Linked DNA regions of Homo sapiens. Each later gene encodes a partner of the first gene's protein in a complex. Links are inferred from orthologs where the notes say so. Each region holds a gene or a part of one and is shown on either strand. Other genes may lie near its edges.

Evidence for each region.
Region 2: the proteins of ADAT2 (region 1) and ADAT3 are in contact, whole or in part, in a crystal structure (PDB 9HMM), measured with the Mus musculus proteins. The link is inferred for Homo sapiens from one-to-one orthologs. Residues at the interface, in NP_080024.3 of Mus musculus: Val62, Asn63, Lys66, Asn67, Ala68, Thr69, His71, Met74, Ile77, Leu81, His85, Pro91, Cys107, Ile108, Met109, Ala112, Ala113, Leu116, Met117, Arg130, Phe131, Val137, Leu138, Ile140, Asp144, Leu145, Pro146, Asn147, Thr148; in NP_001094076.1 of Mus musculus: Val217, Ala218, Pro220, Leu221, His223, Ile229, Asp230, Ala233, Gln236, Gly237, Glu270, Ser272, Pro274, Val276, Val290, Met291, Met294, Ala295, His298, Ala299, Pro311, Asp312, Leu318, Phe319, Val321, Arg324, Asp326, Leu327, Asn328, Pro349.

What each region holds. Positions count from the first base shown.
Region 1 is NC_000006.12:143,430,346-143,445,836, forward strand, and holds part of ADAT2 (tRNA-specific adenosine deaminase 2), read right to left. Parts: intron 14,625-15,491; coding exon of another isoform or gene 14,583-14,624; exon of another isoform or gene 11,104-14,582; coding exon of another isoform or gene 11,093-11,103; exon of another isoform or gene 11,048-11,092; intron 10,796-11,047; exon of another isoform or gene 10,708-10,795; intron 8,350-10,707; coding exon 8,245-8,349; coding exon of another isoform or gene 8,241-8,244; intron 3,637-8,240; coding exon 3,486-3,636; intron 2,267-3,485; coding exon 2,160-2,266; intron 1-2,159. UniProt on the Homo sapiens protein: Probably participates in deamination of adenosine-34 to inosine in many tRNAs.
Region 2 is NC_000019.10:1,892,270-1,908,459, forward strand, and holds the start of ADAT3 (probable inactive tRNA-specific adenosine deaminase-like protein 3), read left to right. Parts: upstream 1-13,129; 5' UTR 13,130-13,170; intron 13,171-16,190.

The DNA.
Region 1 (15,491 bases):
CCCTGCCTTCTGATTCAGATGGTCTGGGGCAGGGACTGAGCAGAGTCAGGCACAGAAGCCTCCAGGTGATTCTAACGGGCAGTCCGGGATGAGAACTGCTGAGTTACAGGCCTCGAAGGAAACTGCACCGCCCTAACACACCAATATAATATATTATTTACATTTTCAAGTATCCATTATAGCAACAAATTTGTGGTGTTAATAAAAAGCAAACATTCATAATAATTTTTTTTTTTGAGACAGTCTCACTCTGTCGCCCAGGCTGGAGTGCAGTGGCGCAATCTCGGCTCACTCACTGCGAGCTCTGCCTCCCGGGTTCAGGCCATTCTCCTGCCTCGGCCTCCCAAGTAGCTGGGATCACAGGCGCCCGCCACCATGCCCGGCTAATTTTTTGTATTTTTAGTAGAGACGGGGTTTCACCATGTTAGCCAGGATGGTCTCGATCTCCTGACCTCATGATCTGCCCGCCTTGGCCTCCCAAAGTGCTGGGATTACAGGCATGAGCCACTGCACCCAGCCATAAAACAAAAATTTTAAAAAACAGAGCAGGTGTTATAATTAATCACCATCTTCTTTGAAAAGAATAGTTCTGTAGGCCTCTAGAAATTTTAATGCTGCTTATAATACAGCATGAAAAGAATCTGCAATTCTGCAGTAAGAAACAGTATCCCACCTCCCAATCACCTGCTGCCTCCTAAGCCCAGACGAATTAAAAAAAAAGAATACCCAGCATTCAGAGCCTGGGCCACCACTGTTCTCCTTAGAATCTAAAAGCACCTTTAAAAAAACCATAATTTGGCATTCAGCCTGGAGATATGGCTGCAAGCCACAGGCATTGATTTGCAGCTGAGCCGATGTGGCTAGGTATATACACTGCAAATGAACTTGTTTTGGTTCTGCTGCATCGACTACAAAGATGTGTGAGAAAGGACTGTGTTTGTGCCCTCATGTCACTGACATGTTGGAGAGAAATATTCCACCCATGTATGACATCAAAAGACTCATCTTTGTTCTGCCCAGAAACTGAAAAATTATTTAGATCATTCTCATAAAGGAAATATGGAGTCAGCAATTCATTTGCAAAGAGTTATGTAAGCAAAATTTGAGCTACTAACAGAAGTGATTGGAAAAATCAAATCACTTTCTAAATGTCTTTAATGATCAAACCAATTGTATCCTTTACTCTCCATCATTGCATTACAATTTCTTTTCTGATGTAATGTTAAACAGCATTTATTCTCAAATGCACAGAAGTTGATAGGAAAGCTAATGTTGAGCTAGAAAACTCAAGAACGTTTTAAAAACTCGTTCTCAGTGAGACTCAGCCAAATTTAGTCCTTCATAGGTCCTTAAAGTATTCTAGGAACCCCTGAGGTTTTTGAAGTGAACTGCCCAGCCATATCCAGCATCTGTTAAAGCTTTTTCTTTTTAAAGCACAATACTTTTACATTAACCTTACATCTTGGAGAGAAAAACAATCAAACCAATTAATGAAAGTAGGGGTATAGTCACAGGCCAAACTCTGAAATACAAATTCCTTTTGTTCATAGTCTGACCCATAAAAACTTTGGGAGAAGTGGCAAGATTAAACGGAAAGGAGAATTTCTAGGAGACTAAAGACATGGATTCTTAAGTCTGGGGGAAATTTCAACATTAAAAAGACACACAAAAAAAGACATGAAAATACAGTGATTGCTAGATACTAAAATAAGGATGTGGCAATCAAGCAAAATGATTAAATTTGTACAAAAATATTGTGTGTGCTGTAAATAGTCTCTAGCGTCACTGACACAGGCCAAGCATCACCAAACTTGGTAGAGCATAGAGCTGGTAACGTTCATTGAATAAAAACTCCAACAGCGAGAGTGTCTTCAGGCATACCTAACGGTGTTGGTGAAGAGTGTTCGGAGTCAGCTGCGAAGGGTGGACTCTCCTTCAGGAGGGAGTCTGTTAATGAAGAGAGGTAGGCACTCATCTAGAAACTCTTCCCTGTCATCTTATACTGAGGCATAAATGAACTCCACCAGAGGCCCTGAGATCAAAGATGTCTGATTCTATCATCGTTTCTTCGTATACTGGCCACACACTAGTTATTCACAAGCCCATAAAGAGATGAAAATAATTAGCAAGAAAGAAAAAGCATAAGCAGTTTGTATTACCTGAAATGGTCTCCCAGTGTTTGGTAGGTCAGCAGAGGCAATATTTAGAACAGAGCCACAACCACCAAATCGTTCATTCTGACAGCCATATACAACCAGCGGGATTTATAAGACAGAATTAAGGTCCTGCATAGAATGTACATTTCAAGTATGTATCGTGACAAAATCAGAGTAGGTTTATACCAGCCATCCTGGAGAGGAACGCTCATGCTACTCTTCAAACCAGTGAAGCTTAGGATTCGTCTTATAAACCATACAATCCAGCTACACAGAAGAAAAGGGGTTAAAGTATTGAGAAATTGACATTTAACAACTGCAAACAGAATGAAAACTGAGTATGTGTTTGCTTAAAGTTCACAGTTCAGGGCTCTCTCTGCTCTTTCCTAAATCACTTTTTCAGAATCATTAGGGAGTCAGAACCAGAAAGGATGCAGAAATTTAATCCAGGGATTTTCACCTTTTAGAAATAAAAGATTCTTCCCTGTTCTTGCCCCAAATAAAATATAACCTGTGCCCTAATACAAAATAGACTAAAGCTTAGCCACTCTGTAAGGCAGGATGAGGAGAGAATTCTAAGTTGCCTATAACAACCCTTTTATAGAGACTGTACATTTTATCATACCCAAAAACCTCTGTATTATTTTTAAAGTGTTAAAATTATCCATCCGTACATAGTAAAATAAGTACATAAAAAATAAGGAACTAAAAAGCTGAGTTTTTCAATTTTCAAATAATTTTTTAAAAAGATCTTTAGAAGTCCCTACAGAGTCTCTGCACTATTTAAGTTGCTTAATCCATGCAAGACAATCCAAAGAGCTGTAACTTTACTCATTTTCCATTTACAATCAGAATATCATAAAGGATTTCTTACTTCTTATTTACTTTTTACTGATAATGTTTGATACATTAGTATTCATGGCAAACAAACCAACCAGATAAACAGAGAAAAAAAAATTTAAACCACTCATAATCCATTATCCAAAGGCAAAACTTAGCTGCATATTCTTTAGGACTTTTCCTTTGCAAACTGTTTTATAATCCACTTCAACTTAATTTATGATTTACCTTTATATAACTGTTTAAGACAGTTCTAATATTTTCTTTCTCTAGATTATTTGTTTAATCATTCCATGTTTATTGATATGAAAAGAAATAGGTCATTTTACTATTTAAAAAGCTTTTCTTTTTTTTGGCTAAGACACACTATATTTTACAAGGTGTTTCCTAAGTCTGTGTTTTCATATTTTGGAAAACAGGCTACGTGTTTGGCCACTCTCTTGTTCACACGAATGGTACGATACATTAACTCATGAAGTCAAAGGATACTCATCAGGCGGAGAGCAGCTGCACACATAATGCACGGCTCCACAGTGACATACAACACAGTGTGTTCAAATACTTCAGAGGGACTCTTGCCACTTTGACGACACCAATCGAGGACCTGATCGATGGCCACCATTTCTGCATGTCGAGTAGCCTGAAAAGAGAAAGGGGCTTGCACTGATGCTGTTTGCTTCATGTGACTACTATTTTACAAATATACAAAAACTAAGTACAAAATATGCGCCTATCCTTTCTGCCAATATTTTAATGAATACAGTTTCAAGACACCCTTAGCAGTGGACAACGTATTCCCCAATTCAAGTACCATAACCTCACTTGCGAAAGATATCTAATCAGAGATGCCACAGGAATCATGCTGTATTTTTAGTTAAGTACCTAAGTACCTTAGGGAAAACTCTTTCAATTAAAATGCCATGGAGAAGGTAAGTCTAAAAAACAAAGAAAAAAAGATAAAGTCTATGGTTTCTGAATATTTCAGGGGAAGCAAAATTTTCATAAGCTTGTGCTCTAGTTTCAAATATATTTTCAAGGCTGTCACTGACCTCACTCCAAGCAAATCTACATTAAGTTCACTGGAATGTCATCTCTTACACTTTTGGGGAATGAGGTTTTATATACTGGAAGACTCTAGAGAAGTAGAGATTTGGTATTGGTTTCAGACACTTCATGGGAAGCAGTAGAGGATAGGAGAAATCACATAGCATGTGGAAGTGACTCCATTTAAATTTGAATTTTGACAGTGACATTACCAATTATGTGGACTTACGCAAGTAACTTAACTTCTGTAAGTCTAGGATTCCCCATATGTAAAATGGTATACACTGGTATCTACACTTATAAACCTTATAAATCTGAATTACATGAAGCATGGTGCCACATAATACTACACATGTACTCTGCTAGCTCTTGTCTCCTTTTCTTTCTCCCTTACTAAAATAGCTTAAAGTGAATCATAGATTCTATATGGAATAATTATTTATAATATTCATGACAATAGTATTTATCAATAATTTACACTGAGTATTAACCATGCACAAGCCACTGGGCTAAATAAATTCTGTGTAGGATAAAAAGTCTCTGTCCTCAACAAGCATAAAATCTGGTAGGGCTCATTTACCTGTGAGATAGGGCAGGGTATGAAAAGTGCTAGCACAGTGGCCCAAGATGCCATGGAAGCTAGAGGCAGATGGGAGCAGAGCTGGCCAAGGGGCTACATGGGTGAATCACAGAACTAATTACCAGAGATGGAAGGTACTTTACAGAAGAGGTTCCCAAACCTGGCTGCACACCAAAACTAAGTGGAGAGTTTAAAAAAAAAAAAAAAAAAAAGGTTTCCCCAACTTAGGTGCTTTCAAAAAATCAGATTTAGAATTATGGAATCAAATCTCCCTACAGCTCTCAATAAACAATTGCTGAACTCAATCATCTCAGTCAACTCTCTTACTACTAAAGAAAAAGAAGCTAAGCAAAGCTGGCATGTGTTAATCACATACAGCTGGGAGAGGAGGTGGTGGTGGCGACTGGGTAGTGGTGGTGGTATCAGATCCAAAAGTAGAACTCAGGTCTTCTCATTTGGGGTCAAGAGTCTTTCTATGCTGTAGTTATAGAGTAATCTTCTTTATGACACGGAATAACAAAATAAACCCAGGTTAATTTCAGCATATAGAAGAAACCCCGGTCACTGGATGGGGTTAGATGGGTATTGTTAGGACAGTCAAAGTTCTCATCTTAAGACATCATACACAAAATGCAAATTGGAAAATTTGACCACGATTTAAAATACAGAATTCTACTCCTAAATAAGTATCTATACATTCATTAATTGCTGTATTATGTTTATTACTTATCTCATGTTTTAATATCCTCTTAATAACTGCTTTGTGATTCAACATGAATGTAATTAAAACATTTTTAAAAATTCTTCAAAACATCTTTTTCAAAAAGAATTTTTGTATGTTTTACAGTATTTTAAATTGATATTTAAAATTATGTCATTTTTCAACAAACATCAGCTAATTGTTTGCAGAGGTATGTGTACATGCTTCTGTTTTTTTCTAACTGAAAAGGTAACGGCTAATTTAAAAATGTTAATTCTATATGGGAATGACTACCCTGGCAGTTATAATACTTCTCAGTGTTATAATGGTAATTATTTTAACATTGTTTGAAATTATTGCACATGTGAGTTAAAATTAAAAGACTGTATATATTTGTATATTGTTACATGATTTATATGAAAGAAAACTGTCTGGAAGAATATGGCAAAATTTTAATAGTTCTGCATAGAGAAATGAGATAGAACTGCTTCTACTTTCTGTATTTGAAATTTTAAAAAGGTATTTCAAAATGAGCATTTAAACAACAAAGAAGGCCCTGACAGTGGCTGAACTCCCCCAGCAGATGTCTGATGCTAAGAACATGATGGCTGCCTATGACCCCCAGTATGGCCTCTATCTAACAGAGGCTGCCATTTTCAGGGGCTGGATGTCCATGAGGGAGGTAGAGGAGAAAATGCTTCATGTCCAAACCAAGAACAGCAGCTACTTTGCTGACTGGATCCCCTACAATGGGAAAACAGCTTTCTGGGACATCCCATCCGCAGGACTAAAAACGTCCACCACTTTCATCAGTAACAACACGGCCATCCAGGAGCTGCTCAGAGACGTCTCAGAGCAGTTCACAGCCATGTTCAGGTGCAAGGCCTTCCTGCACTGGTACATGGGCGAGGGCAAGAATGAGATGGAATTCACTGGGGCCGAGAGCAACATGAATGACCTGGTATCAGAGTACCAACAGTATCAGGATGCCACTGTTGAGGAGGAGGGAGAGTCTGAGGAGTGGACTGAGGAAATGGGGGCGTAGAGCCTTCTGTTACTGGGTTAAGGGCGGGGGTGGTATGAATTCTTCATTTGCCCACAATGTGTTCTGTGATAGTCATGTCTGTGTGGGCACTTGCTGTTCTTGCTGTGTGTTCACCTCTATTAAAGCATTTCCATAGTAAAAAAAATAAATAAATAAATAAAAATTAAAAGTATGACTTACATATATTCATGCTTCTCACTTATTACAGGGTAAATTTAAAACTGATTCATTAAAAAGTTGTCTTTTTCAAGAATTCAAAGGACAAAGAATTTTGTGAAATACTATATTTTTATTTAAGTGTCTTTTTTCTTTCTAATTCTACACTTCGATCTACTATTTTTCATAAGCAAATTGATAAAAAAGTTTTTTTGGGGGGCTGACATATTAACTACAGATTTTCTATGCAGTGAACATGGTTATATATAAATCTGAATTGTCCAACTACTTTGTCGGAACAGTTCCTATTGATTGGAACTGCTAGGGCGAAGTATATGCAAAATCTACATTTTGAGTAAATTTCCTATAATCAATGTAAGCTTTCCCAGTGTTTGAACGTTTCCCATTCCCTAAAACTGTTCAAACATTAGATATCAGTATTTTTAATCACTGATAATCTAATGTTACAAAGAAATTGCTTTTTTCTTCTGTTAAAGTTAAGTTAGATCATCTTCATGTAGCCTTATTGGTTGTTATTTCATTTTCCTCTGTTCCTTTTATTTTCACTTCCCTTGTAATATTAGTCTCTCTGTTACTGATTTCTAAGAACTCATTTCTGATTAAGGATGTGAACATTTTGTCAAGCATTGCAAATGAAATACCATGTTTATTCCAGTTTATTTTACTGTGGTGTTTTATTTTTTTGGTTGTACAGAAGTTACGTATTAAAATATAATCCTGTTCTATTTTATGGCTAAAAATAAATAAGTAAATAAATGATTTGTGAATCTGGATTCCTATTTTACATGTGTTTTGCTAAATATCAGTTTTCTTTTCAATAGATGTGATTGATAGATGAACTAGTTCCCACAGCCCTGGTATCAACACCAGCTTATTCTCTGGCTCCCAAAATCATATGACAAGATAAAAGTCTGTGTGAATGGCATTACAGGTATAAGTGATCTTTGAGTCCACCTAGGAATTTTTGTAATCATAAAATTTGGTAGTTTACTTATACTTCCCAAGTATACTTATCATGACACACTATTGTGATACCATGTTTAAGAAGCATTGCCTTGAACCATGAACTTCCCAACCTAACCACAATAAAAGTCATACAAGCTATTAAAATGTACATGCTACATGTAGCTACAGAGGCAGCTGGTGTTGAAGACCCTATTTTGTTGAATTATCTGATAAAGGAATAGCTTCCTTTATATAATCCTCATACCTCCCTCCAAAGCTATACATTGAGGATACTTTTTTAACTTACTAGGATGAAAATATTATTTAAAGGTACTAAAAAAGGAATGTATTATGAGTTAAATTGACCTATTTTATAAAATGAAAATTTCATATATTAGATTGGCTTAAAGTAGAGACAGACTTGTTTCTTCCATGCTGACATTCTGATGAAATAAAATCCCCTCTTGGGTTTCACTCAAGCATTAGAGTAAAACTCTATGAAACAGAAAATTATTCACTAAGATTTTATGGCTTCATTAAATTGTTCTGAATTTTCCACAATAAAAAAAATCAACATGTATCACTTTCAAAATCAGGAAGAAAATGATACTGAAAAAGAGAGACGTTAAGAAAAGCTACCCACCACTGGCAGCTACGGGACTATATTCAGTCTCACCTTCACACCAACTGTGGTAAATTCTCTCCAGTCCACCCATCACTACTGTATGTTTGCAATTATACTGCTCAACTCACATACATTTTTGGTTTGGTTAACTTCATTTCTCCCCTTCCCTACAACTTCATTGTTGTAGACCATAAGACAGCCAACAGGAACTTCAGTATTTTCGAGGGCTTCTTTGGCCTGAAACACAAAGTGGAAAATGTAAGACGTAATACTCCATACTTGAAGAGAGTATAGGAGAGAAAGAGATGCAGCATGAACAAGATACACATGTACAAAGACTGAAACAAAGAAGTGCAGCCTTCCCTTTTCTGGAATATAGTTCCATTACGGTATTTAGTGCCCGTGTTCTGTGTTGTGTCCATGTTAAGGGAGACTCAAAAAAAATCCCCTTGATAGGTCCAGAGCCCCTGATGTCTTCTCATTGGAAATAGACGTGATCAAAGGAGACTGTGACTGACCACTGTTCTTGAAGTGCCAGGGTCTATGTGTCTTTTCAGAGATAGAATACATATTTGCAAAAAGGTAGGGGACTAAATAACACTTATAGATCCTTTATTACAATCCTTTCCTCACTGAAATTCCTTTGCTTCTCTAAAAATTATAGAAATTATCCTCTAGAGTCCCAATAGCTAAAGGTAACCAGACTGGATGTCACCCTGTCCCACAATTTCTACTCTATGTGAGACAATAAGAGTTTAGAAGTACTCTATGTAAAATGGCACAATCATTATGAAAAACGTTTTGGAAATTTCTTTAAAAAGTAAACACACACACAGTCTATAACAAAATTCCACTCCTAAGTATTTAAAAGAAGGGAATATGTGTCTACAAAAAAAAAAAAAAAAAGAAGAAGAAAGAAAGTTTGAAAAAGAACCAAAACCTTGAAAAAGAATGTTAATAGCCAAAACCTGAAACTGCACAGGTGGCCATCAACAAGAAAATGGATAAACAAACTGTGTCCTATTCATATAATGGAATACTAGTCGGCAATAAAAAGGAACTACTGATACTGTGACAACATGGATGAGCCTCATAGACATGCTAAGTAAAGGAAGTCACACACAAAAGCACACATACTATATGATTCCTTTTGCACAAAGTACCAGAATAGATAAAACTAAACTACAATGACAGAAACTGGAACAGTGGTTGCTTCATGGAGGAGGATGTGCAGATTGATTGGGGAGGTACACAAAAAAATTTTCTGAGGTGGTGAAAACTTTCTGGATCTTGATAAAGACATGGATTACAGAGATGTTTGCATTATTCAAAACAGATTGAAGGATACATTTACAACCTGTGCATCTCACTGTATATAAAGTATACCTCAACTGAAAAAAATCAATGAGAAAAACAAGTTTAGGAACACTTCCATGACTACCATCCCAGGAATGGCAAACCAATTATTATATTCTCAAAGTTCCCTTTATCACAGGCCATTCGTTTTTCTTCTTGTCCCATGATAGCAGCTCTGGGCCCTAGGAAAATTAACTCTACCTTCAGGCGGAGAGCTTAAGCAGGCAGGTTATGCCTCAGTATAACCTGATACTGCCTCTGAGAGTCAGAATAAGGGAAGAGTACAACCCTTGGACTAGTGTACATTCATTCCCATCTCAATGCAGTCAAAAGAATATAACTGCTGTACAGCTGTTTCCAGAAAGGCAAGGTATTCCTTACTGTGGCAGCCCTGAAGAGACTTTGGAAGACTTGATTCTCACTTAAGTGCAGGTACTTACACACATCATAGGGCATATAAAGTGCAAAGTTGAAGGCATTGTTAAAACAGTGTCTTCTGTCTCCTGCACCAGTCTCTTACTCCCAGTTCTACTTTATTTAACTAGTGACAACTTCCTATTATAAGGCATACAGGATTTCCTCAGTTATTCCCACCATGTTCAACGGACACTTATTCTTCATTTGGCCATTAGAGGAAAAAGGAGACGCCCACAGCAGGAGCAAACTGGGCCTCTCTTTTCTCCATCTGGTTGGTGGGTCAGAGATGGGGCATGGAGAGATGTGAGAAGACAGTATCTGATGCAGTAAGACTGCATTCAGGACTATTTTATGAACTATCCACAGGCCGGTTGTGTCCCAGTTCTGTGACAGTGGTTAAAGCATGTCCAGTTTATGCAAGTTCAAAAGGCTTGAAGAGTCCCGAGGTTTGGTTAATATAGACAAATGCACCATAGGCTACTATAGAGAAGAAAGCCAGGAAGAAGACGGACAGTTAAGGAGAATGGAAATGCTAACTACCAGTGTAGCTATGGCAATTATTATACTAAGAATTTTATTTAAGGTAAGTGTAGAATTACACAGAGATCAAGGTACACAGAAGAGACAAATCATTTATTCATGCAAAAAATATTTGTTGAGGATCTTGAGATGGAGAGATTATCCCAAATTCAGGTGGGTCCTGAAGGCACCCACAGAAGGCAAGAGGCGAAGTGATAACGGAAGGAGAGAGAGAGAGATTTGAAAATGCTGCACTGCTGGCTTTGAAGATGGAGGGATGGGTCATAAATGTCACTTCAGTACCTGGAAAAGGCAGGCTTCCAGAAGTTATTCGGCCCTGCCAAAACTTTGATTGGGGCTCACTAAAATTTCAGACTTCTGGCCTCCAGAACTATAAGAGAATAAACTTGTGTTGTTTTTAGCCACCATGTTTGTGATAATTTGTTACAGCAGCCATAGGAAACTAATACATGCAGCAAAGAGGAAGAAAAACATGCTAAAATAGGAAAAAACTTACAAACCACATCTCTGGCAACACTCTAGTATCTAGACTATATAAAGGACTCTTAAAACTCCACAATAAAATAATAATCCCATTAGAAAAAGACTGTTTTCATCTATTTGTGCTGCGATAAAGGAATACCTGAGGCTGGGTAGTTTATAAAGAGAAGAAGTTGATTTGGCTCACAGTTCTCCAGACTGTACAAGAAGTATGGTATCAGCATCTGCTTCCAGTGAGGGCCTCAGGAAGCTTCCACTCATGGCAGAAGGCAATGGGAGCAGGCATCACATGGTAAGAGAAGAAGAAAGAAAGGAGGGGATGGTATATTCTCATGATAATAATATAGTGAGAACTTGCCACTATAAAAATGATTTATGAGGTATCCTCCCCATGATCCAAACTTCCCACCAGGCCCTGCTACTAATACCAGGGATTCAATTTCAACATGAAATTTGGAGGCGACAAATATCCAAACTATATGAGAAGGCAAAAGACAGACATTTCACCAAAGAAGATAACACACATAGCAAATAAGTACACGAAAAGATGTTTTCACATCATTAGCCGGTAGAGAAATGTCAACTAAAACCACAATGAGGTATCACTACACACCCATCAGCATGACTAAAGTGAAACGTAAAAACAACATCAAATGCTGGCAAGGCTGTGGAGAAGTGATATTACTCATATACTGCTGGTCGGAATATAAAATGGTACAGCCACACTGGAAAATAGTTTGGCAGTTTCTTAAAAAGCTAAACATGCATTTAACTTATGACCCAACAATTCCACTCTTGGGCATTTATCCCAGAGAAATGAAAACCTATGCTCACACAATGTATGTCTGTGTGCACAAATATTCATAACAGCTTTATTTGTAATAGCCAAAAACTGGAAACAACTCAAATGCCCTTCAGTGGGTGAACTGCTAAACAAACTATGGTACACCTGTACCATGGGACACAATGCAGCAATAACAAGGAATGAACTATCGATAATCTCAACAACTTGGATGGATCTCATGGGAATCATGCTGAATGGAGAAAGCCAAGCCAAATGGTTACAGATTCATGTACATAGCATTTTTGAATTATAAAATTATAGACAGAGAACAGATTAGAAGCTGCAGCTATAAAGAGGTAGCACAAGGGAGCCATGTGGTAGTGAAACAGTTCCAGTGGTGGTTATACAAAGCTAAACATGACAAAATTGCATAGGCACGCATACACACACACACACACACACACACACACACACACGTACAAATAAAACTGATGACATCTTAATAAGCTCTGCAGTTTTCCCAATGCATTTTTCCTGGTTTTGATACTGAACTATAGCTATGCAAGATGTTACCACTGAAGGACACTAGACACTTGGGTCCTCCCAGTATATTATTATTGTAATTTCTTGTGAACTTATAATTATTTCAAAATGAAAGTTAAAAAATAAGTACAGGTAAACAAAAAGGATTTTGCAATGGGAATTAAAAAGAGATGTTTAGTGAGTTTAGAGAAATATTTGGTGTTACGGACAATCCCAGAAAAACACTAGGCCAAGAAGGAAGGGTGGTCAAGTGTGTCTAATTCAGCAAGGTGGTGGCAATTTAGGTGGAATGGTGGAGATGAAAACCAGTAGCTTGAACAGTGACTTATCTAAGAGGTTAAATTTTTAACTCCAGCTATACTTTCCCCAACAAACCTCTTAAGAGAGGTAATGTTTTGTCTGCATCTCGAGTATTCTGGTTCTGAGAGCTTGAACATAAGAGCTTACAATTTATTGAAAGCTTACTTTGATCCAGGACTAATTTAAGCATTTTATAAGTATTAATTCATTTCATTTACAAGCCTATAATGATCTTCCCCATTTTACAGATGAGGAAACTGAGGCACAGGGAGATTTTTTTTTATACATGTATATATCTCTCACTAGCGCATGTGAGAGAGCTGGGACTAGGGCATAGACAACCTGGCTCCACTTATTCATTTGTTCAACAAACATTTGTGGAGCACCTACCAAGGGCCAGATTCCAGGGCTCTCTGCCACTGTTCTGCCTCTAACTTCTACTTTAGTAACAACAGACACTTCACCGATCAGCTGCTTTATCAGGGTTTGAGTTTAGAGTGAATCAAGGGACCAAATGAGAGAGAACAGTTGGCAAGAGAGTGAGACATGGAAATTTTAAGGATAAAAAAAATGGCAAGAGGAGTTCAAGGCTGTAGTGAGCTATGATCATGCCACTACACTCCAGCCTGGGTAACACAGCAAGACCCCATCTCTAAAAAAAGTAAAAAATAGGCTGAGCACAGTGGCCCATGCCTGTAATCCCAGCACTTTAGGAGGCCAAGGCAGGTGGATCATCTTAGGTCAGGAGTTTGAGACCAGCCTGGCCAATATTGTGAAACCCCATCTCTACTAAAAATACAAAAATTAGCTGGGCATGGTGATGGGTGCCTGTAATCCTAGCTACTTGGGAGGCTGAGGCATGAGAATCGCTTGAACCCAGGAGGCGGAGGTTGCAGTGAGCCCAGATTGTGCCATTGCATTCCAGCCTGGGCGACAAAGTGAAACTCTGTCTTAAAAAAAAAAAAAGTTAAAAAAAAAAACAAAAACGGCAAGAGAATAAACAAATGGAGGCCATGTGATCAGGATTTTCTGTAAAAATATCTCCTGAAGAGCTCTACATTGGCTATGTGGGCCATCTCAAACCTGCAGAAGAGAATGCAGGGCCGAGTGGAAAGGACGTGAGTGGGATGGGAGATGAGATTCCATGTTGCCTGCAAGTTCTGTCTTGTTCACCTGGAGATAGCACCCACGCCACCATGTTACTGGGTTTGTGCCTTCCATTCCTTCCTTTGGATTTTTCTCTTTTTCCGTCTAGCAAATTTATTTCATTTCACTCCTCTCAATATTATCTTCATGTTTATTTTGAGTAACACAGTTTTTTTTCCTGAAATGCCTTCCACTGCTGTCCGAAACAGAGAGCAAATATGAGCGATCGGAATATTTTAAAAGGACAAATAACGTCATTGTTGAGGAATGGCCGAGCCTGCCATGCTGAGGATGAGTGGGTAAGCAACTGGAATGGTAGGCAGGGGAGGGGGCGGTGAGAATAACACAAAGCCCCATGGAAGTGAGTTGAGGGGAACTCCTTTACAACAATTAACATGTAGATTTGCTTCACTAACAAGTTCACAATAGATTTAATTAAGCTGGAAATCAATTTCACCCCATACCCATATCATACTTTCAAACTCTCCCAACAACTCTACTGTCAAGTCTGATCACTTCTTCACAAATGCAAAAAAGCTCAGGCAAAATGGGTCTGAAATTTGTGCAGGTAGCTTTGAATTTAACCTTTCTTGCCTTTTTTAGGGGGAAAGACCAAGATCAGATACTATTTAAAAATGGCTACAAGGTTTTTCATAAAGTAACAAATGATCAACCTTCAAAATTAAAGAATAAAATCTCTGTTCTTCCCAGCCCAAACACTGGTCTCTATTTTGTCCTTGAATATAATTTCTTTTTTTTCTCTAGTCAGGGCCTGCCCAGATACAGATAATGAAAGCACCTAGATGGAAGAGACTTCGTAGTTTATTATTTTCTCCAAAGACATTACTACTATAAACTGCTTTCTAGTGATGTCATGATAAAAGGGGGAGAGATGGAAACAGACCTTGTTTGCACACAGTTTGATGAGTCCTTAAAGAAATATTTCCTATAAAGACAAAAAATTAGGGGGAACAAACAAGTTAGCCAGAACTCTCAGGTAGAACATCATCCTGTCCAAAAGGCTAAACTATATAACTGTTTCTGCTAATTACTCTCTTCTGAGTGATTACTCTCTGAGTAATTAGCAGAAACAGTTATATAGTTTAACTTTGGGGATTTAAAAAGTGATAATGTTTTTATTCCATCAACTTTAAATTCTTCAATATGGCACTGAAGGTCTCCCAACTATCACCCACCCTCCCATTGGCCAACCGAACCAACCTAACTTTTCATTATTCATTTAGGTTATTAACCTTTTCAGAGCAGAAATCCCCTTTTAGACACTGATGAAAGTTATGGACTGTCTCACTTGAAAAAGGCACACGCACATAATATTTTATATATAGTTTCAGCGTTCATAGATCCCCCTAAACCTGAGCCTGAGGTCAGGGAGCCCTGTTCTAGATAGATAGATAGATCTCCTTCTAACCCAAAACAAAGTTCTTGATTTCTTTGGACATGACAGTATCTTTGCTTGGATCAACCTTTCCTTTCCACCAGCCCACATCCTTTTGGTCCCTTAAAATTTAGAAGGAATTCTATCATTTATCTCAACGGACGTGTTGAAGGACCTTGCCAGCTGTTATCTGACAGCACTTTATATCTGTCTCTTGTGGTCTTTGGACATGTTACTTACCAACCTTTTCATCTGTGCCTGACTTAATTTCATCAATTAAACAGTATGTTCCTGGAAGGCAAGCACTAGATCCAGGCACTACGAAGCTTCTCTTGCTCACCTCTGCAGCCTATGCACCCAGCACAAGGTCTAACACATAGCAAAAACTTAATCATACCACATTTGTTGAAATGGTGT
Region 2 (16,190 bases), on another chromosome or scaffold:
TTTCTGGCTTTGGCTGCAACAATAATGGCACATGAGACGTTTCACACTGATGGATAGGACCCTGCAGGGAGGATTCCTGGAAGAGGAGGTCCCATGAGAAGGTCCATGCTGCTGTGTTCAGAAAGCAATCCTGGGTCTCCCCCTGAGAAAACCCCCCACAGAGGGACCGAGATAGATGATGTGGGAGAACAAGGTACTGGGTGACTTTTTTTTTTTTTTTTTTTGAGTAGGAGTCTCACTCTGTCATCCAGGCTGGAGTGCAGTGATGTAATCTTAGTTTACTGCAAACTCCGCCTCCCGAGTCCAAGCAATTCTCCTGCCTCAGCCTCCCGAGTAGCTGGGATTACAGGTGCCCGCCACCACGCCCAGCTAATTTTTGTATTTTTAATAGAGACAGGGTTTCACCATGTTGGCCAGGATGGTCTCGAACTCCGACCTTGTGATCCACCCGCCTCGGCCTCCCAAAGTGCTAGGATTACAGGCGTGAGCCACCGCGCCCAGCCATAATTTTTGTATTTTTAGTAGAGACAGGGTTTCACCATGTTGGGCAGGCTGGTCTAGAACTCCTGACCTCCAGTGATGTGGCTCTCTTGGCCTCCCAAAGTGCTGAGATGACAGGCGTGAGCCACAGCACCTGGCCTAAAACTAGATTTCTCTTTTTTTTTTTTTTTTTGAGACAGAGTCTCGCTCTGTCGCCCAGGCTGGAGTGCAGTGGCACGAGCTCGGCTCACAGCAAGCTCTGCCTCCCAGGCTAAAACTAGATTTCTAAATAAGCTTTGTGATTAAATACTAATATTTATACTTTTCAGCATATACTTACAAGAATGGGACTGGGCGCGGTGGCTCATACCTGTACTTCCAGCACTTTGAGAGGCCGAGGCGGGCAGATCACGAGGTCAAGAGTTCGAGACCATCCTGGTCAAGATCGTAAAACCCCATCTCTACTAAAAATACAAAAACTAGCTGGGCGTGGTGGTGCGCACCTGTAGACCCAGCTGCTCAGGAGGCTGAGGCAGGATAATCGCCTGAACCCGGGAGGCGGAGGTTGCAGTGAGCCGAGATTGTGCCAATGCACTCTAGCCTGGGCGACAGAACGAGACTCCGTCTCAAAAAAATAATGGAAAACAGGGATTTCCATAGATATTTGCACACCTATGTCAGTAGTACCTTGATTCCCAACAGCCACAAGGTAGCAACAGTCCCAGTGGCTATGGACAGATGACTGGGTGAACACAGCATGGCCTATACACACGCTGGAATAGGAGGCAGCCATGAAAAGGAGCGAGGCCGGGCATGGTGGCTCACACTTGTAATCCCAGCACTTTGGGAGACCGAGGCAGGTGGATCACGAGGTCAGGAGATTGAGACCATCCTGGCTAACACGGTGAAACCCCATCTCTACCAAAAATACAAAAAATTAGCCAGGCGTGGTGGCGGGCGCCTGTAGTCCCACCTACTGGGGAGGCTGAGGCAGGAGAATGGTGTGAACCCGGGAGGCGGAGCTTGCAGTGAACCGATATCGCGCCACCACACTCCAGCCTGGGAGACAGAGCGAGACTCCGTCTCAAAAAAAAATATATAATATAATATAAAAAAAGAAAAAAGAAAAAAAGAAAAGGAGCGAGGCTCTGACTCAGGCCACAACGCGCGGATGCACTTTGAGGACGTTACACTCAGCGGGAGGCGCCAGACACAAAAGGACACGTCTTGTGTGATCCACTCCTAGGAGGTCCCTCGAGTCCTCAGATTCACAGAGACACAAAGTAGGATGGAGGCCGCCAGGAGCTGGGGAGGGGAATGGGGAGTGAGCGTTTCATGGGGCCAAGTTTCAGTTTGCAAAGATCAGAAAGTTCTGGAGGTGATGGTCGCACAACCGTGTGAATGAGTTTAATACGGCTGAACTGTGCACTTAAAATGGTTAAGAGGCCGGGCGCGGTGGCTCACGCCTGTAATCCCAGCACTTTGGGAGGCCGAGGCGGGTGGATCACGAGGTCAGGAGATCGAGACCATCCTGGCTAACACGGTGAAACCCCGTCTCTACTAAAAATACAAAAAATTAGCCGGGCGTGGTGGTGGGCGCCTGTAGTCCCAGCTACTCGGGAGGCTGAGGCAGGAGAATGGCGTGAACCGGTAAGGCGGAGTTTGCAGTGAGCGGAGCTTGCGCCACTGCACTCCAGCCTGGGCGACAGAGCGAGACTGTCTCAAAAAAATAAATAAATAAATAAAATAAAAGGGTTAAGATGGTCAACTTTATATTATGCGTATTTTACCACAACCAAATAAATCAATGTTCATAAAACCACGGAGTTAGACGAGCTGTTTGGTTAGCGCCAGCTTCGCAGGCAGAGGCCTCAGGGGTCCGCTGGGGACCCACACTCAGAGGAATCTAGGCATGATATAATGCTCTGTGGTTGCTGTCTCAAAATTCCTAAAAATTGGCTGGGTGCGGTGGCTCACTCCTGTAATCCCATCACTTTGGGAGGCCCAGGCGGGCGGATCAGCTGAGGTCAGGAGTTCGAGACCAGCCTGACCAACATGGTGAAACCTTGTCTCTACTGAAAAAACAAAAATTAGCTGGGCGTGGTGGCGCATGCCTGTAGACCCAGCTACTTGGGAACCTGAGGCAGGAGAATTGCTTGAACTCAGGAGGCGGAGGTTGCAGTAAGCTGAGATCATGTCACTACACTCCAGCCTGGGCGAGAGAGCAAGACTCCGTCTCTTTAAAAAAAAAAAAAAAAAAAAAAAAAAAAAAAAGGCCGGGCTCGGTGGCTCACGCTTGTAATCCCAGCACTTTGGGAGGCCGAGGCGGGCGGATCACCTGAAGTCGGGAGTTCAAGACCAGCCTGACCAACATGGAGAAACCCCGTCTCTACTAAAAACACAAAATCAGCCGGGCGTGGAGGCACATGCCTGTAATCGCAGCTACTTGGGAGGCTGAGGCAGGAGAATCGCTTGAACCCAGGAGGCAGAGGTTGTCGTGACTCGAGATAGCACCATTGTATTCCGACTGGGCAACAAGAGCAAAAAAACTGTCTTAGAAAAAAAAAAATTCTAAACATTTTTAAACAAGGGGCCCTGTATTGTCATTCTGAGCTTGGCCTCAAAGATTCTGTAGCCAGGCTTCTTTTGGGGAAAGGACCGGGAGGCCTCCTTCCAGGGTCAGGGGCGTTAAGCGCTGCGGAGGGATACCCCTCCCAGAGGGGAGAGAGTGGAACCCGCTCAGGAAGTGGGTTCCTGACATGAGAAGGAAGGAAGTTGGCGGGGGCATCTTAAAATAGCATCACCCAACCACGCGGTCAGAGGTGCGGGGAGGGAGCAGGGCCAGGGCCGGGGACCCTCCCAGCGACCTTCCCTGCAGGCACCCAGCCCCGTCCCCTCGACACACCAGACCCAGCACCCTCTGCTCCCACCAGCCCACCAGGAATTGGGTTATTTAAGTTATTTATTTATTTCCTTATTTTCTTTTTCTTTTGAGATAGAGTCTCACTTTGTCACCCAGGCTGGAGTGCAGTGGCGTGATCTCGGCTCACTGCAACCTCCACCGCCTGGGATCACGCGACTCTTCTGCCACAGCCTTCTGAGTAGCTGGGATTACAGGCGCCCGCCACCAAGCCTGGCTAATTTTTGTATTTTTAGTAGATACAGGGTTTCACCATATTGGCCAGTCTGGTCTCAACTCCTGACCTCAAGTGATCCACCCGCCTTGGCCTCCCAAAGTGCTGGGATTACAGGCGTGAGCCACCGCGCCTGGTCTATTTCTTTTTTTTTTTTTTTGAGATGAAGTCTTGCTCCCTCGCCCAGGCTGGGGTGCAGAGGCACAATCTCGGCTCACTGCAACCTCCGCCTCCCAGGTTCAAGCGATTCTTCTGCCTCAGCCTCCCAAGTAGCTGGGATTACAGGTGCCCGCCAACCACACCTGGCTAATTTTTGTATTTTTAGTAGAGACAGGATTTCACCATGGTGGCCAGGCTGATCTCAAACTCCTGACCTCAGGTTATCCGCCCACCTCGGCCTCCCAAAGTGCTGGGATTACAGGTGTGAGCCACCGCGCCTGGCTGTAATTGCCTCTTAAAGAGAAACAAGTCAGATTGGATTTGGGCGCACCCTCAGGACGTCATTTGAACCTAATAATCTCTTTAAAAAGTCCTGTCTCGGCGGGGGCCAAGCACAGTGGCTCAAGCTTGTAATCCAAATACTTTGAGAGGCCAAGGCAGGAGGATCACTGGTGCCCAGGAGTTTGAGACTAGCGTGGGCAACACAGCAAGACCCCATCTCTACAAAAAAAAAAAAAAATATTTGGTTAGCCAGGTGTCGGGGCACATGCCTGTGGTCTGAGCTACTCCGGAGCCCAATGTGGGAGGATCCCCTGAGCCCAGGAGTTTGAGGCTGTGGTGAGCCGTGATCAGCTCCCACTGCACTCCAGCCTGGGCCACAGAGAGAGACTTCCTATCTCCACGCCAAGTGCCTTAGGTCACGCCTATAATCCCAGCAGTTTGGCAGGCAGAGTGGGAGGATCACTTGAGCCTTACAAGTTCAAGACCAACCCGGGGCTGGGCGCGGTGGCACACGCCTGTAATCCCAGCACTTTGGGAGGCCGAGGTGGGCGAATCACGAGGTTAGGAGATCAAAACCATCCTGGCTAATACGGTGAAACCCCGTCTCTACTAAAAATACAAAAAATTAGCCGGGCGTGGTGGTGGGCGCCTGTAGTCCCAGGTACTCGGGAGGCTGAGGCAGGAGAATGGCGTGAACCCGGGAGGTGGAGCTTGCAGTGAGCTGAGATCACGCCTCTGCACTCCAGCCTGGACCACAGAGCGAGACTCTGTCTCAAAAAAATAAAAAAAAAATAGCCGGGGGTGGTGTCGGGAAGCTGAGGCAGGAGAATGGCGTGAACGCAGGAGGCGGAGCTTGCAGTGAGCCAAGATCATGCCACTGCACTCCTAGGCGACAGAGCGAGACTCCATCTCAAAAAAAAAAAAAAAAAAAAAAAAAAAAAAAAAGACCAGCCTGGGCAACTAAGAGAGACCTCTGTCTCTGCAAAAAAAAAAAAAAAATTTTTTTTTTGAGACGGAGTCTGGCACTGTCACCCAGGCTGGAATGCATTGGCGTGATCTCAGGGTTCACGCCATTCTCCTGCCTCAGCCCCCCGGATAGCTGGATTACAGGCGCCCACCACCACACCCGGCTAATTTTTTGTATATTTAGTAGAGACGGGGTTTCACCGTGTTAGCCAGGGTGGTCTCGATCTCCTGACCTCGTGATCCACCTGCCTCGGCCTCCCAAAGTGCTGGGATTACAGGCGTGAGCCACCGCACCCGGGTGACACTCCATTTTTGACCCCAGTGTTAGCACAGAGCTTTTAAACTTCCGCACTGCTGATGAGGGAGTGTGATTGTTCTCTGTTACCAGCACTGTCTCCCGCCCACCGGAGCCGAGTGTGGTGGGTGTGGACCTTCTGGGAAAGGGTGTAAACACGTGCTTAGATCCGGCCGGAAGCCCCGTGACCGGGGTGCAGCTGCCTTTGGTCAGTAGGTGGCAACCGTGTCCGCTTGATTTTGGGAGGGTCCGAGAGGCTGGTGCAGGGCTCCCAGGAGAGGCGGGGGCGATCCCACTTGCCTTGCCAGGATAACAGCAACAAGGGCTGCCCACGTGCATGCTGGGCAATAGGGATACCGCAGAGAATGAAAGTCCAGCCCTAGCAGGGCAGCAAGACCTCGACTCTACAAAAATTTCAACCACAACAAAAATTAGCTGGGCGTGACGGAACACATCTGTGGTCCCAGCTACATGGGAGGCTGAGGTGGGAGGATCGCTTGAGCCCGGGTGGCAAAGGCCACAGTGAGCTATGACTGCACAACTGCACTCCAGCCTGGGTGACAGAGGCAGATCTTGTCTCAAAAAAAAAAAAAAAAACAAAAAACAAAACAAAAACACCAAGGCCAGGCACGGTGGCTCATGCCTGTAATCCTAGCACTTTAGGTGGCTGAGGCGGGAGGATCACCTGAGATCAGGAGTTCCAGACCAGCCTGGCCATCACAGCGAACTCCCATCTCTACTAAAAATCCAAAAATTAGCCAGGTGTGGTGGCAGGCACCTGTAATTGCAACTACTCAGGAGGCTGAGGCACAAGAATCGCTTGAACCCGGGAGGCGAAGGTTGCAGTGAACCGAGATGTCACTGCACTCCAGCCTGGGGGACAGAGTGAGACTCCATCTCAAAAACAAAACAAAAAACACCAAAACGTCCTGTCCTGGTGGAGGTGAAATAAATGAGACATCCTTGGCCGGGCGCTGTGGCTCACGCCTGTAATTCCAACAATTTGGGAGGCCAGGCGGGTGGATCATGAGGTGAGACCGAGACCATCCTGGCTAACATGGTGAAACCCCGTCTATACTAAAAATACAAAAGTTAGCTAGGCGTGGTGGCAGGCATCTGTAATCCCAGCTACTTGGGAGGCTGAGGCATGAGAATCGCTTGAACCCGGGAAGCACAGGTAGCAGTGAGCTGAGATCGTGCCACTGCACTCCAGCCTGGGAGACAGAGCGAGACTCCGTCTCGAAAAAATATATGTATAGCCAGGCGTGGTGGCTCACGCCTGTAATTCCAGCACTTTGGGAGGCCGAGGCGGGCGGATCGCTAGGTCAGGAGATCAAGACCATCCTGGCTAATGTGGTGAAACCCCATCTCTACTAAAACTATAAAACAATTAGCCGGGCGTGGTGGCGGGCACCTGCAGTCCCAGCTACTCAGGAGGCTGAGGCAGGAGAATCGCTTGAACCTGGGAGGCGGAGGTTGCACTGAGCCAAGATTATGCCACTGCACTCCAGCCTGGGTGACAGAGCGAGAGTCCGTCTCAAAACAAACAAACAAACAAATCAGAAAGTTAATGGGATGCTGACGCAAAGAAACAAGCTGAACAAGGTGGTGACAGGGAAGTTGATACTGATTTTGGCCTCAGCCATGTGGAAACAGACAGAGGGTCTTGCGGGGAACTCCTCTCCTTTTTTGGACGCATTCCTGTTTTGTTTTGTTTTGTTTTGTTTTTTTAACTTTCTTAATTTTTTTCAGTTTTCGTCACACTTTGTCTAATACTATTTCTTTTTTGTTTTTGAGACAGAGTTTCGCTCTTGTTGCCCAGGCTGGAGTACAGTGGCACAATCTCAGCTCACTGCATCCTCTGCCTCCCAGGTTCAAGTGATTCTCCTGCCTCAGCCTCCCGAGTAGCTGGGACTACAGGTGCCCGCCACCACGCCCGGCTAATTTTGTATTTTTAGTAGAGACAGGGTTTTTCCATGTTGGCCAGGCTGGTCTCAAACTGATCTCATGATCCGCCTGCCTCGGCCTCCCAAAGTGCTGGGATTACAGACATGAGCCACCACGCCCTGCCTAAAATATTTGTTTTCATAATTAAAAACATTGTTTCTTAGCCAGGCCCTGTGGCTCATGCCTATAATCTTAGGACTTTGATTTTTTGTTTTTGTTTTTGTTTTTGAGACGGAGTTTCCCTCTTGTTGCCCAGGCTGGAGTGCAATGGTGCAATCTTGGCTCACTGCAACCTCTGCCTCCTGGGTTCAAGCGATTCTCCTGCCTCAGCCTCCTGAGTAGCTGGGACTACAGGCATGCGCCACCACACCTGGCTAATTTTTCGTATTTCTAGTAGAGACGGGGTTTCACCATGTTAGTCATGTTGGTCTCGAACTCTTGACCTCAGGTGATCCACCCGCCTCAGCCTTCCGAAGTGTTGGCATTACAGGCGTGAGCCACTGTGCTGGCTTTTTTTTTTTTTTTTTCTGCGACGGAGTCTCGCTCTGTCACCCAGGCTGGAGTGCAGTGGCGCCATCTCCGCTCAGTGCAAGCTCCGCCTCCCGGGTTCACGCCATTCTCCTGCCTCAGCCTCCCGAGTAGCTGGAACTACAGGCGCCCGCCACCACGCCCGGCTAATCTTTTTATTTTTTTTAGTAGAGATGGGGTTTCAGCGTGTTAGCCAGGATGGTCTCAATCTCCTGACCTCATGATCCACCCACCTCGGCCTCTGTACTTTTTTCCTATTGGCTGGGGTCGGGTCACACAATCTAAACTAACTTTGGTTGGCTAAACATTTGATTTTTTTTAGATAGGGTGGGTATGTAAAAGAAAGGGGAGGCCGGGCGCGGTGGCTCGCGCCTGTAATCCCAGCACTTTGGGAGACCGAGGAGGGCGGATCACGAGGTCAGGAGATCGAGACCATCCTGGCTAACACAGAGAAACCCCGTCTCTACTAAAAATACAAAAAATTAGCCGGGCGTGGTGGCGGGCGCCTGTAGTCCCAGCTACTCGGGAGGCTGAGGCAGGAGAATGGCGTGAATCCGGGAGGCGGAGCTTGCAGTGAGCGGAAATCGTGCCACTGCACTCCAGCCTGGGCAACAGAGCGAGACTCTGTCTCAAAAAAAAAAAAGAAAGAAAAAGAAAGTGGAGAGAATGGGGAAGGGGGTGTCTGTGATGAGCTAGAAAGTTAGTCTTTTTTTAAAATAAGGAAAGGAATGTAAGCTGATGCTGATAACGCTTGGTATTGAGGCGTGTCTAGGCATTTAACAAAGGCAAAAAGGAAAAAGAAAAAGAAGGGAAAGGAGGGGTACTATGAATTAAAGAATAAATGATTGATCAGATTATTTGAAGAGAAACCCCATTATATCCCACAACTAGAACCCCTGGCCTGAAGTGGTCCACCCGCCTCGGCCTCCCAAAGTGCTGGGATTACAGGCGTGAGCCACCACTCCCAGTCTTATTTTTATTTTATTTTGTTTTGTTTTGTTTTATTTATTTTTTTAGAGTCTCGCTCTGTCACACAGGCTGGAGTGCAGTGGCGTGATCTCAGCTCACCGCAACCTCCACCTCCCGGGTTCAAGCTATTCTCCTGCCTCAGCCTCCTGAGTAGCTGGGATTACAGGCGTGCGCCACCACATCCGGCTAATTCTTGTATATTTAGTAGAGACGGGGTTTCACCATGTTGGTCAGGCTGGTCTCAGACTCCTGACCTTGTGATCCACCCACCTCGGCCTCCCAAAGCGCTGGGATTACAGCTGTGAGCCACCATGCCTGGCCTATTTTTTTTTTCCTTTTTTTTTTTTAGACACAGTCTCCATCTGTCACCCAGGCTGGTGTGCAGTGGCGCAATCTCAGCTCACTGCAAGCTCCACCTCCTGGGTTCACGCCATTCTTCTGCCTCAGCCTCTCGAGTAGCTGGGACTTCAGGCGCCCGCCACCACGCCTGGCTTTTTTATTTTTAGTAGAGACGGGGTTTCACCATGTTAGCCAGGATGGTCTCGATCTCCTGACCTCGTGATCCGCCCACCTTGGCCTCCCAAAGTGCTGGGATTACAGGCGTGAGCCACCGTGCCCCGCCCAGGCCTATTTTTTTAAAGACAGGATCTCCCTCTGTTGCCCAGGCTGGAGTGCAGTAATGCTGATCAAAGCCCACTGCAGTCTTGACCTCTTGGGTTCAAGTGATCCTGCCACCTCAGCCTCCCAAGTAGCTGGGACCACAGGCACACACCACACCTGGGTAATTTAAAATTTTTGTGTAGAGACAAGGTCTCACTATGTTGCCCAGGCTGGTCTCAAACTCCTGGGCTCAAGCGATCCTTCCACCTTGGACTCTCAAAGTGCTGGGATTACAGGCGTGAGCCCCCGAGCTTGGTCCTGGTCATTTCTTGACTGCCTGTCACTTGGGGCCACCCAGCCCGCCAGTGTCTGACTTAGGCTTCTGGCTGATTCTCTGCGGCCACTAAGCTCACAATTGGGGAACCGACTCCATGATTTTGCAACATTTCGATGCCGGACCCTGACGCATTACTGTGAGTCGGGAGGGTCACGTTCCGTTTGTTTTTTGAGACGGTCTGGCTGTCACCCAGGCTGGAGTGAAGTGGCATTGGTGTGATCTCAGCTCACTGCAACCTCTGCCTCCTGGGCTCAAGCCATCCTTCTGCCGCAGCCTCCCGGCATGTAGCTGAGACTACAGGCGCCACCATTCCCAGCTATGTTGTTTTTTTTTTTTTAAAGAAAGAGACAAGGTCTCGCTGTGTTGCCCAGGGCAATTTCAAAATTCCTAGACTCAAGCAATCCCTCCGCCTCGGCCTCCCAAAGTCCTGGGATTACACTGGGATTACAGGTGTGAGCCAGCACACCGGCTGTGGGCCACATTACTTTTGAAAAGTTCTGGATAAAGGCCGGGCGCGGTGGCTCATGCCTGTAATCCCAGCACTTTGGGAGGCCGAGGCGGGCGGATCACGAGGTCAACAGATCGAGACCATCCTGGCGAACATGGTGAAACCCCCGTCTCTACTAAAAATACAAAAAAATTTGCGGGGCGTGGTGGTGGGCGCCTGTAGTCCCAGCTACTCGGGAGGCTGAGGCAGGAGAATGGCGTGAATCCGGGAGGTGGAGCTTGCAGGGAGGTGGAGCTTGCAGTGAGCTGAGATCGCGCCACTGCACTCCAGCCTGGGCGACAGAGTGAGACTCCTTCTCAAAAAAAAAAAAAAAAAAAAAAGAAAGAAAAAGAAAAGTTCTGGATAAAGAACAATGTCAATTAAAAAAGGGGTCCCATCAGTAGAGGCTGAAATCATGACTGAAACTAGCTTAAAGCCCAAAGCAAAACAAAAACCCGAAAGAAGGCCAGGCATGGTGGCTCGCACTATCCCAGCATTTTGGGAGGCTGAGGCAGGTAGATCACCAGAGGTCAGGAGTTTGAGACCAGCCTGGCCAACATGGTGTACTAAAAAATACAAAAATTAGCCAGCTGGAGCGCAGTGGCGCAATCATAGCTCACTTCAGCCTTGACCTTCTGGACTCCAGTGATCCTCCCACCTCGGCCTCCTGAGTAGCTGTCCCAGCTGTCCCACTTACTCAGTGCCCCTCCGGACCCAGCAATTCTTTTTTTTTTTTTTTTTGCAGAGATGGCAGCATGTCTCAAACTCCTGGCCTCAGGCAAACCTCATGTGTCAGCCTCCCAAAGTGCTGGAATTACAGGCACGAGCCACCATGCCTGGCCTAGATTCATTTTTTTAGATGCAGAGAATCTGGGCTTTGGATTTAATGACTTACCAAATAAAGGCTGTCTTTTTTTTTTTTAAAACAAATCAGCAAAACAGGGGCTCTTGGCTAGTTTGCATGAGGCATCCAGGGATGGAGAGATGTGTATTTAAGCTAAAAAAAGAAAAAGTGAAACTCACAGCAGTCTGAGTTTTTATTCAGAAAAGGAAAAAAGAAAGCAACTGAGAGCGAAATAGTTTCCTGGAATGCTGTTTTTTTTTTTTTTTTTTTTTTTTTTTTTTTTTGAGATGGAGTCTCACTCTGTCGCCCAGGCAACAGAGTGCAATGGTGCGATCTCAGCTCATCGCAACCTTCGTCTCCCGGGTTCAAGTGATTCTCCTGCCTCAGCCTTCCCAGCAGCTGGGATTAAAGGCCCCTGCCACCATGCCTGGCTAATTTTTGTATTTTTAGTGGAGATGGGGTTTCGCCATGTTGGCCAGGCTGGTCTCGAACCCCTGACCTCAGGTGATCCACCCACCTTGGCCTCTCAAAGTGCTGGGAGTACAGGCATGAGCCACCGCATCCGACCTTGAAATGCACTTTCTTTGAAACACGTCCTCCCCTTTCTCACCATAAACTCCCTCACACTCTGCAGGTTTACCTAACTGTATGCATCTAATTATGTGATTACCTAAAAGTTCCAGGAACAGGCTGGGCACGGTGGCTCACGCCTGTAATCTCAGCACTTTGGGAGGCCGAGGCGGGCAGATCACCTGAAGTCAGGAGTTTGAGACCAGCCTGACCAACATGGAGAAACCCCATCTCTATTAAAAATACAAAATTAGCCAGGTGTGGTGGCGTGTGCCTGTAATCCCAGCTACTCGGGAGGCTGAGGCAGGAGAATCACTTGAATCTGGGAGGTGGAGGTTGCGGTGAGCTGAGATCGTGCTGCTGCACTCCAGCCTCGGTGACAAGAGCGAGACTGTCTCGAAAAAAAAGAAAAAAGAAAGAACGTTTTAGAGCTAATCTGGAGACAGGCCAAGCACGGAGACCCACCTGCAAAATCCCAGAGATTTCCTCAAGGTGGTCTGCAACCCGGCCCTTATTAGGATGAGGCCAGCCTGCGCTTTTAAGCCACCAAAATTCATGAACACACAGAGCTTATAATCAGCACCTCCCCTGCACACCCACCATTCCCAGTTCCCCTTTTTTAGCCCCTCACCCCAGCCTCAAGTTTGAAGGGGTTTCTGGAGGCCTAAACCAGCTGCCTCCCTGCTGCGAACTCTGAAAGGAAGTCACCTTCCTTTCACTGCACTTTTTCCTCCTTACTGGTTTGTCAAGACTCTGGCATCGGAGCCTGAGCTGGTTACAGCCAGGCACTGTCAAGCTGTTGGGGGAGGGGATGACAAATTCCCTCCCGTTGAGAACCACTTGGTTAAACCTGTCCAACTGGAAGGAGTAACAAATTGCTCATAAAATATGCATGTTTTGGTGAAACCCCTTCTCTACTAAAAGTACAAAAACTAGCCAGAAATCGCTTGAACCCAGGAGGTGGAGGTTGCAGTGAGCCTAGCACTGCACTCCAGCCTGGGTGACAGACTGAGGCTACGTCTCAAAAAAAAAAAAAAAAATGTGCTTGTTTGGCCCAGGAGAGGCAAGAGGTCTTCTTCACCTACGTTACTGGTGAGAAAACTCAAACCTGAGGGCGGCCCACGCCGGAGTGCAGTAACAGGCAGAACTGGAACCTGGCCCCATCCCGGACTCAGGGGACGGGTGTCATATACCCCCTCTGCCTCATCCTTCCCACTCTGCTAACCTTCCAAAGATCCCCCGGGTTCCGAGTTTTCCCTGGCCGCTTGATGGGATTCGAACCTGCAAACTCAGCGCTCGCCCAGCGCAGCGGCCCCGCCTCTCCTCCCCTCCCGCCGCCCGGAGGTCATGTGAGCGCAGTGCCGGAGCGGGGCGGGGCGAGGCGGCGGCGCGCAGTGCCTACTAGCAATTGTAGTCCTTGCCCCACCTTGGCCTGGCGAAGATCCCGCCCCTGGAACTACGCTCCCGTCGTGCTCCGCGGCTCCAGGCGGAGACGAGGCGGGGTGAGGTGGGTTGGGCCGGGCCGGTTGCTAAGACTTGGCGAAGCGCTGCGCTCGCGCCCGGATCCCTCAGGTAAGCGCGCGGCCCCGAGGTCTCGGGTTCTCCAGGCTCAGACTTCCCCAGAGGGGGAGTAGGGGCTGACATGGGGGGTCTCGGCGGTGAGGGGCGCCGGCCGTTTGTGGGGAGAAAACGGGGGGCCCAGGCCAGCCTCGCGCGCGTCTCGGGCGGGCCGGTGGGCGACGCGGGGAGGCGGCGCGAATGCGCGTGCGCGCGCGCGCGCGGCGCTGGCCTGGGGGAAGCCTCAGGACCGCGCTCCCCCGGGCCTAGCGCCTTTCTGCGCGTGTGCGCCCTTATGGTCGGTGCGGGAGACCCCGTATCCTCCAGCTGCTTCCGGTGGCCCTTCCTCAGGTCATGTCCCGCAGTCCCCTGCCTCTGAACCGCGCTCTCGCGAGTTTCCGTAGCCTTCGCGTCCTTCCTCCCCAGCTCTGATTCGCCTTTATGTGGAGATTCCCCTAGGCCTTGGTACATCCCCAGAATTGACCATCGTTCCTCATCGTTACCTAGAGTATGAGTTTTTCAGGTTTTTGTATCACAGGCCCCCAGTTATCTCCCACACACTACCCCGAGGACCGAGGTTCCCCGCTGTCTTGCAGAGAAGGCCTCCTTGTAGGGTGGCCAGAAACAGAGGATCGACTCCGTGGAAACAAGGACGGCTGGGTGCAGTTCCTCACCCTATAACCCCAGCACTTTGGGAGGCCAAGGCGAGTGGATCACCTGAGGTCCGGAGTTCGAGACCAGCCTGTCTAACATGGTGAAACTCCATCTCTGCCAAAAATACAAAAATTAGCTGGGCGTGGTGTCACGCGCCTGTAAAACCAGCTACTGGGGAGGCCAAGGCAGGAGAATCGCTTGGACTTGGGAGGTGGAGGTTGCAGTGAGCCAAGATGGCACCATTGTACTCCAGGCTGAGCAAGCTAGCAAGACTCACTCTCCAAAAAAAAGAAAAAAAGATTTTTTTTTAATAAGCCAGGCATGGTGACACATGTCTGTGGTCCCAGCTACTTGGGAGGCTGAGGCAGGAGGATTGCTTGAGCCCCGGAGGTTGAGGCTGCAGTGAACTGTGATGGCACTACTGCATTCCAGCCTGGGCAACAGAGCGAGACCCTGTCTCTAAATAAATAAATAAAATACATACGTGTAGCGCCGGCCGTGGTGGCTCACGCCTGTAATCCTAGCACTTTGGGAGGCCAAGGCGGGTGGATCACGAGATCAGGAGATCAAGACCATCCTGGCTAACACGGTGAAACCCTGTCTCTACTAAAAATAAAAAAAAGCCAGGCATGGTGGTGGACGCCTGTGGTCCCGGCTACTCCCAAAGGAGGCTGAGGCAGGAAAATGGTGTGAACTCAGGAGGCAGAGCTTGCAGTGAGCCAGGATCGTGCCACTGCACTCCAGCCTGGGCGACAGAGTGAGACTCCGTCTCAAAAAAAAAAAAAAATTGTGTGTGTGTGTGTGTGTGTGTAAAGAAACAAGCCCCAGGCTGGGCGCAGTGGCTCACGCCTGTAATCCCAGCACTTTGGGGGGCCTAGGCAGGTATATCACAAGGTCAGGAGTTCGAGAGCAGCCTGACCAATATGGTGAAATCCCACCTCTACTAAAAATATAAAAAATTAGCCAGGCATAGTGGTGCACATCTGTTGTCCCAGCTGCTTGGGAGGCTAAGGCAGGAGAATTGCTTGAACCAGGGAGGCAGAGGTTGCAGTGAGCCAGGATCGCGCCACTGCCCTCCAGCCTGGGGGACAGAGTGAGACTGTCCCAAAAAAAAAAAAGCCCCCACGCAGACTATTGGTGTGCCCTGGAACTGAGCATTAGCTGTTCCCTCTCCGAGTTCTCTCCCCTACTTCCCCAGCCTTCCAGGCTGGGCTGTGGGTCACTGCCTCCGAGGAGCCCTCCTGGATTCTGCTGAAGATGGTCAGGCCCCTCCATCCCCCCATTTTCTCTTATGTACCTGACAGCCCTGCCTTAAAAAAAAAAAAAAGGTAGAGCAGGAATTCCCATTTCACAGGGGTGGAAGCCGAGGCTTGGAGGAGTCAGGACTGGTGCCTGAGTTCTCGCAGTCAGGAATTGACCGCGCTGGGCTGAACGCCTCTAGGGCAGGTTGGGGACTGGGTGTGTTTTCTGGGTGGACATACCCAGGTCCCGGCGCGGACCTTGGCCTCCTCATCTGTGGGCTTAGATAAAGGCCTCCCAGCCTCCTGTTCACCAGGGTTGTCACCACGCAGGGTCTGACTCACCTGCCTGGAGCTATGCCGGTTCCCAGCCCAGGCTGGCGGCCGTGTTCTGCTGGGACCTGGGACCTGGGCTGCCTGCCCTCCTGAGGGGTCCCAGTGGTCGGTCGCCTGCCTTCTGGGTGGGTGTGGTAGAGGGAGGGTCAGGTGGCCCCCTGCTGTTGGGGGGCAGTCGCTGTGGGAGTGAGTCGTCCCCCCGGGCCATAGCAGGTAGGTAGGAGGTGCTCTGGCAGTTGAGGCCGCCCTGGCCTGGGACAGTCAATCAGCCTGAACACTGTGCCTGTTCCGGGATTTTGACCTGCCCTCCAAGGGCGCGGCGGGCCCAGCCTGCAGTGTCCCGGCAGCTGCCTCCTCTCTGGGTCGTTTGTTTTTCATCAGACAGAGGTTGTACTCTTGGAGGGACAAGCGAGGCTGTGTTTGTCTTTTACCCTGGAGACAGTGGAGTGTTTGTGGCCTAGCAGGGCCGTGCGGGCCTCTCGGTCCTGGTCGCGCGTGGTGTGCGTTTTGGGAGGGCCCAGCGAGTCGGCTGCTATGGGCCCCACCTGGCACGGGGCCTCGGGCAGCGGCAGCACCTGGCGCTGCCTCCGCGCTTCCTGCTCCCGGCTCCCACTGCATCTCCGGTTCTGTGCTTTGTTGAACGCGTGAGCTTCGGGCAGCGCTGGGGCCGCTTCAGCGTGACCTCCAAGGCCACTGGCCTGGAGTTCCACTGGCTGCTGGTCCCCCATCTGTGGGGCGCCCCGGCGGCTGAGGCGTGGACCAGGCAGTGCATGTCGAGGAGTAGCACCCACAGCTGCGCGGCTGCGA